Linked DNA regions of Homo sapiens. The protein of the gene in region 2 interacts with the protein of the main gene of each other region in a biochemical or structural test. Each region holds a gene or a part of one and is shown on either strand. Other genes may lie near its edges. The genes, in order: GSPT2 and UPF1.

What was found.
Region 1: the proteins of UPF1 (region 2) and GSPT2 form a complex in vitro, tested with the Homo sapiens proteins (one study listed by BioGRID).

What each region holds. Positions count from the first base shown.
Region 1 is NC_000023.11:51,741,886-51,746,256, reverse strand, and holds GSPT2 (eukaryotic peptide chain release factor GTP-binding subunit ERF3B), read right to left. Parts: upstream 2,816-4,371; 5' UTR 2,631-2,815; coding exon 744-2,630; 3' UTR 25-743; downstream 1-24. UniProt on the Homo sapiens protein: GTPase component of the eRF1-eRF3-GTP ternary complex, a ternary complex that mediates translation termination in response to the termination codons UAA, UAG and UGA.
Region 2 is NC_000019.10:18,862,787-18,865,984, reverse strand, and holds part of UPF1 (regulator of nonsense transcripts 1), read right to left. Parts: intron 2,548-3,198; coding exon 2,373-2,547; intron 1,816-2,372; coding exon 1,734-1,815; intron 697-1,733; coding exon 535-696; intron 425-534; coding exon 207-424; intron 1-206. UniProt on the Homo sapiens protein: RNA-dependent helicase required for nonsense-mediated decay (NMD) of aberrant mRNAs containing premature stop codons and modulates the expression level of normal mRNAs.

The DNA.
Region 1 (4,371 bases), on a different chromosome or scaffold from region 2:
AATAAAGACGGCCTGAGCCTTTCATTTTCAAATCACAAGTGGGGAAGCAGAAGAGCTCCTTTATTGACTGGACTTGGACAGAGAAAACAAAGCCCACTGGGAAGAGCCTTAACATACGTTTTTTTCTCAAAATTAAAATTATTCCTTTAATACACACTTATGCATTGTTTGTAAATTCCTCACTTAAAACAGTAAGTGGTGAAGAGTTTTTAAGTTTTTAAGTGATAGAACATATTCAACTATTTGAGAAAGTAATAAAGCTAATTGAATAGCATTACATAATGACATTTAAACATTATTCAAAAGCATTTCAAATAACCGAAGAGTTTCAAATGGAGTATTTTATTCACATGTTAGTTATCATTTTAACACACACACAAACACTGACACACTCTGGTTTGCGTGGAACAAGGGTGGTCTAAATATCCTAAAAGAAAATGAAAAATTAAAGTACATTAATTTTTCATTACTGTAGGCAATTACGTCCACATCACTTACAAAGCTATTACTGATATTGTCCAAGGAAGCAGAGTGGTACAGAGGAAGGAAACTTGAGGGTAAATTCATCAGTGACATAACAGATCTCAACATGAGAAAGCTGACAAAACATGAATTTTTGCTGTGAAATTTCTCTTTGCAAAATATGAAGAAAAGTCAATCAATGGGCAGTAAATAAGAGTAGGTGGTGAACTTTTGCTGTCAATTCTCCTCACAGTATCTTGCAGAGGCATCAAGAAAATTGCTTAGTCCTTCTCTGGGACCAATTTCAGAACTTTTCCAATTGCAATGGTCTTACCCTCATCTCTTAAAGTAAAACGACCCATCTGAGGAAAATCTTTGAACGTCTCGAGGCAGATGGTTCCTGCTGTCCTTAAACGAGCAATGCATACTTGATCTTGTTTCACGAAGCGGGGTCGTGTCTTACTTTTTTCTCCTGATTTTTTGTCTACCAAGGAGATTAACGCTGTTATCTCAACTTCCTCAATACAAGTATGAATGTGCAGCACCGCATTATAACCTGGGCAGATGATGGATTTGTGCTCAATAATCACTATCTGAACATCAAACGTGCGTCCAGAATGGCAGAGGTTACTAGGATCACAAAGTATGAATCCTGGAAGAATCTCTTCTTCTTCAATTCCCTTCAGTCTGATTTTGAGGTTTTCACCTGGGGCTACAAAATCAGTTTCAGTATCATCAGAAAGTATTCCAAGAACTTCTACATTGTGCTTGTTTGGCATCATCACGAGCTGCTGGCCTTTAAAAATGGACCCGGATTCCAGCTTTCCCAGGACCACAGTGCCCATATCTTTGTACTTATCCACAATTGGCAGTCTTATTGGTCCATCAATTGATCTGTTGAAGTTTGGCAAGTTATCCAAATACGGAATAAATGGTAATCCAGTGTACCAAGGGCAGAAATCTGACTGCTCTTTAATATTTGCTCCGGTCAGTCCTGAGCAGGGCATAAAGTGAATGTCCTTTTTTGGACTGAAGCCTACTTTTTTCAAAAAGGGCACCAGTTTTTCTTTACATTCTTCATATCTCTCGATGCTCCAATTTACTGTGGGATCATCCATCTTATTAATAAGCACTATTAAATGTTTTACCCCTGCCGTTTTTGCCAACATCGCATGTTCTCTTGTCTGTCCACCTTTTTCAAATCCAGTTTCAAACTCTCCTTTCCTGGCAGAGATGACCAGCACAGCCAAATCAGCTTGAGAAGCACCACCAATCATATTTGGGACAAAACTCTTGTGGCCAGGGGCATCTAAAATTGTGAAATGTTTCCTTTCTGTTTCAAAATAGGCACGACCCACTTCGACTGTTTTACCCTTGTCTCGTTCCTCCTGATTTGTATCTAAGGCCCAGGACAAATACCAGGTTTCTCTGTTTTTTTCCTTAGCTTCTCTTTCATATTTCTCCAGTGTTCTTTTGTCAACCATTCCAGTCAAAAACATTATCTGTCCTCCGATGGTTGACTTGCCAGCGTCTACATGGCCAATGAATACTACATTTACGTGTTCTTTCTTAGGTGCACCTGAGGGTACGATCACAGATTTGGATTTTCTTATTTCCTCTTTTTCCTCCATCATTTCCTGGCCACTTTCTTCTGGGGGCCCTGAATCTCCCGAGGAACCACCCCCAGGCTCGGCTTCACTTACTTCTTTACTGTGCTCCCATGATTCTTCTAGGGCCATTTCCACCTCTCCATTTTCTACAACAGGTTCTGAAAGTTCCATGGTAACGGCTGAATTGGAACCTTCAAGCGACACTAACGGTTCCTCTCGGGAAGGTTCCACAGGTGCCCCCCGTCCCATCCTTTTACCTTGAGGGTATCCCGCGCCGGTGCAGGTTTCATCGTTGCTGCCGGAGCCGGCCGGGAGGGTGGGCGGCTGAGTCGGGCCCCGCAGGAAGGACGGCACGAACTCCGCGGCGTGTACGTTAGGCACGAAGGGCTTGGCGTTGACGTTGAGCTTACGGCTGAAAGCCGAGCTGAGGGGCTCGCGCTGGGCCTCGGCCACCGCAGAGGAGACTCCATCCCCGCTCGGGGCCGACCCCGGGGATTCCATGTCCACCTGGTCCCAGCAATCGGGCGCCGAGTCGCTGCTGCTGCTGCCCGAATCCATGGTCTCGGAACTTGCTGTGTGGCAGTGAGGGAGCGGGCTCAACAGGCCAGAAGAGCGGGCTCCGCCGGCGGGGTTAAGGCAGCAAGAGCGAAGGGCCAAGGGGTAGCGACACGAACCTTAGCTGCACCGCGGAGGCAGCTAAGCGCCGATGCTGCATTCGCAACTGCGGCGGCAGCAGCAGATATGGCGGCTCAACACTCTCCTCTTGTGTGTGAGCGGATCTCCTCCCCCAAACCCCAACCACTTCCGACTCCTCCACCCCCGACCCAACGCCGGGCGTGGATTGACCCCTCGCTGCTATCCGTACGCTTGGCTTCCTTACTTCTTCTTAGCCACGGGCTAAGTCCAAAAGTATTATTTTTTAAAACGAAAATTTCCATTCACTTTTTTGTTCACACAGTCTGGCAGAGCAATTTGACCACAATCTGATGATTAAACCTAGACAGGAACACATGGTATACAATTCTACCAAAAGATTCAAGTAAAAGTGATCATTTCTATTGAACAAATGGGAGGCAAGATAAGGGTTAACTATACAGAAATTCAGAAACCCAGCAACTGAAGGGAGAGGCAAGGAATGGGTAGGGAGGGACTCATGAAATATATGAGTCTGTAGCCGAACTTAGGAAATGCAACTTAAGATCACTCATTAATTTGAAATCCACAGGCCTTTTGATTTTCCCTTTCCAGTGGGCCCCCATAAGCCTGTAACTTCTGCTGATGGCTTCTATAGTTTAAGGATAGGGTTACAACTTCTTTTCATGTTAAGCACCCTGGCTGTCTGAGGGGAGAGAATTTCCAAGGAGATCCTTGTTCCAGTGAAGCTTCCAGTCACTTCATATGCAGATGCCTGCACAATGGCTGGCCTGCCATTCAATGGTGGATCACGTAGACAAGCACAGGACTCAGATCACTCTTGTTTTACCAACCAACTGAATTCTGGGTTTATCTGCACTACTCCCCAGCACCTCCCTAGTACATCCTGCATCCACAGGCCTCGGGTTTTCCTGCTTCATTCCGGGGGGCCTGGAATCCTACTCACTGCACTGGCTTTGCTCTAAGAAACAATCAGTGTCATGTTGAACCCCTCTACAGTTTATGGTAATGAGACAGGGCTGTAGGTGTCAGCCTAATTAAACCAATTAAGACTTCTGAGATGAACAAAGACCTTAAGACCCTAATCAAAAGAATCTCACTCTCAGAAAGTGTTAACAGTTGAGTCAAAGCCTCAGCGACCTTGTTTGTAAATTAATTTAGTGCAAACTGACATAGAAAATACAAACTTATTCTCTGAATCTGTTTTTAGTCTTCATGTACTCAAATCTGTCACCTTTTGCTTTTATGAATTCAGGTTTTGTGACATACCTAGAAAGACTATTCAGTCCAAACAATCTGCTTAGTACAAGATGGTGTCACATAGATGGATTTATTTTTTTATTTTGAGACAAAGTTTCACTTTTGTTGCCCAGGCTGGAGTGCAGTGGCATGATCTCAGCTCACTGCAACTTCTGCCTCCTGGGTTCAAGCAATTCTCCTGCCTCAGCTTCCTGAGTAGCTGGGATTACAGGCGTCCGCCACCAAGCTCAGCTAATTTTTCTTAATATATATTTTTAGTAGAGACAGGGTTTCACCATGTTGGCCAGACTGGTCTTGAACTCCTGACCTCAGGTGATCCACCTGCCTCGGCCTCCCAAAGTGCTGGGATTACAGGCATGAGCCACCACGCCTGGCCTCATAGTTG
Region 2 (3,198 bases):
GCCCTCAGCAGCCCCAGAGAAAAGAATGGAAAACCCGTCCCCAAACTAAGACCCAGGAGACCCACTCTGATGACCCCAGCCCAGGGACAGGTAATTCAGACAGTGGACATGGGCCAGGCCAGCTCTCTGGGGCTCTTCAGAGGGAATGTTTCAGGTGCATAGCCCCACCCTCACTCAGGTAAGTCCCGTCCCAGGGGCGGGCTCACCTGGGACAGCTCCGGCTGGGAGAGGCCGGGCTGGCTCATCTGGGAAGGCTGGCTCATGGAGATGTAGCCCTGCGTCAGGGCGCCCTGAGAGAAGGGCTGTGACGCCACATCCTGGCTGGCTTGGCTGTTGGGGAGGTTAGTCTGGCTGGGTCCAGGAAGCCCAAAGCGGTTCTTCTGGCGTCCCCCACGACCAGTCTTGCCTTTCGGGGTGCCTCGCCCTGAAAGACAGCAGTCCAGGGTGATCCGAAGGAGGCCAGGGCCTCGCAGACAAGCACACCCTCAAGAGCTCTCAGGAGGGCCACACCCAGCCGCAGCCACAGATGCTCACCTGCAGCAGGCCCGTTGGCTTGTCCAAAATAGCCAGGCGGTGGCATGGGTGGCATGACCAGGTTGAAGGGGATGGGAATGTTCATGGCAGCCACGTGGCTAGGGCCGGCACTGATCATGCCAATCTGGTCATGGGTCTGGAAGTACATGCTGGAAGGCCGGCCTGCAAATCACAGTGGAACACGGCAGGTGTCACCTGCCTCGGTCAAACCCCAGCGATACCCCACCCACCCCACCAGCCAGTCAGCCGGAGCTGCACATCTGTCCTGGCTCTGCCCAGGCTGAAGATGCGGATTCGCAGGACTCCATGTTAACTACAGCAGCCTGCCTGGGGCTGGGTGCTTGGGCAGGCACCTTCCCCGAGGAGAGTCTGCTGGGAATCATTGGCCTACACAGATCTTAAAAACTGAAAATTGGGGCCGGGCGTGTTGGCTCAAGCCTATAATCCCAGCACTCTGGGAAGCCGAGGTGGACCACCTGAGATCAGGAGTTTGAGACCAGCCAGGCCAACATGGCGAAACCTCGTTTCTACTAAAAACACAAAAACTAGCCGGGCATGGTGGTGGGTGCTTGTAATCCCAGCTACTCGGGAGGCCAAGGCAGGAGAATCGCTTGAACCCAGAGGGGGAGGTTGCAGTGAGCCAAGATCACACCACTGTACTCCAGCTTGGGCAACAGAGCGAGACTCGGTCTCCAAAAAAAAAAAAAAAAAAAAAAACACCTGCAAATTGGCCAGGTGCAGTGACTCACGCCTGTAATCCCAGCACTTTGGGAGGCTGAGCAGAAGGACTGCTTGAGGCAGGAGTTTGAGACCAGCCTGGACAACATAGGGAGACCCTGTCTCTAAACAAAAAAAAGAAAATAAATGAAAATCACCCTGCATTTACCAAAGGAAAAAAAAAATCCTTTTTATGAAAATGTTCTATTTGTACTACATGCAGTCCCTGCCCTACCAAAAGGCAAGAAAAAGCTAACTAGCTTGATCACCAGGAAACACAAATGAATAAACTCTGGTTAAAGACAAACACCCCAGGAGTGTTCCGGGGCTAGAGATGCCCTAGGGGCGGGGAGGCCAAGGGAGCCAGGCACCGCCCTTGAGGGGAAGGAAAGATGGGGGCACCTAAAGCTGCAGCCATGGGAACGGCCAGCATCCCGGTGTGAGGACAAGGGGTCGGCCAGGTCCCCTGCTGAGCGACTCACCCTGGCTGCTCCGATCATAGACGGAGCCTGGGATGATGGCCTCCCGGGCATCATACATGGCTGTGGTCATGAAGCGGGCTCCCTGCGAAGGTTTAGATAGGTGAGGAATTTGTCATCTCAACAGAAGGAACAACTTCCCACGGGCCCGGTGGCCTGGGAGGTGGCAGGTATGCAGCTGTGAGGTGTTGACACTGTGCCAGGGGCTCTCCCTGGAGACAGGAGGGAGCTGCTGTCTCATGGCCTCTGGGTCTCGCCTGCCCTCCTCGGCAGACCTGGGCTCTGATGCTGACCCTTGGGCCTCAGCTCAGGAAGCTTCACACCCCCTCACTACCAGATCACCCCGGGCTTGCAAAGCTTCCAACTGCCCGTGTCCAAGGTCCCAGGCTGCTGCATGCAGCACAGCAGCCCTGAGCCCAATTCCCAGAGGCCACCCAGGACTTAGCGGCCCCAAGCCAAAAATGCCACACACGGCTCGGGAGACAAGAAGTGGGCTGGCCCACCCTCCCCTAGGAGAGCCCACCCTCCCCTAGGAGAGCCCTCCCTCAGCTCACGGGCACACGGGCCAAGCTGGCACGTTCCCAGCAGTGTTTTGGGCCCGGGTTTCTCCGTGCTGCCCTGCTGTCCTGTGCAGGCGCTCACCGGGTTGATAGTGTTGACCAGCTTCCGTGGCTTGCTGAACTGCATGAGGCTCTCACGCAGGTTGTTGAGCGGCCCCTCCACCAGCACCTTCTGCTCCTTATAGTAGTTCAGCAGGTGGTTCCAGAGCGGCTGCTTTGATAGTGCCTTCGGGTTGCCCACAATGATGACGCCATACCTGCAACAAGGGCGCAGTGCTGAGGACGCAGGTGGAGAGCTGCCCGTCTCACAGGACGGTCCAAGAGGCAAGGCTGCATTCACTCAGAACCCAAATCCAAGGCAACAGAGGCGTGGACCGGGCAGCAGGCAGGCTGCCAGCCACAGGGACAGGCCCCAAAGCCCAATGCCAAGCCACTGACCCTGCACACGGGTTGATTTTGTGGCCGACTCTAAGCAGCCCCATGGCAGACACCTGGCTGGGTGGATACGTTTGGAGAGAAGACCTGCTGTCAAGAGAGTCGGCCTTCCAGGCACCGGGGCACACGCGGCCCCACAGGGCCCCCAGCAGGCCGGGGCACTGACCCGATGCCCAGCTCCTCTAGCCCACCTCACGAAGCTGTGGGGGGACCCACCCAATACTGCCCACCAAACAAGAGGGCGCCTTAGAAAGAGGGAGTAACCAATGACAAAGCCATGGTGACCTAGAGGAGAACCACCGCGCATATGAGCCGGAAGGAGCACCAGGCTCTCTCCCTGTGCTGGGTGGAGCCACAGGCCAGGTCCCCCCAACTTCCAGCTGGTGAATGGGTCCTTGCTGTCTAGTGTTTTTTTTTTTCCTTTGGAGACAGAGTTTTGCTCTTGTTGCCCAGTGGCTGGAGTGTAATGGCGC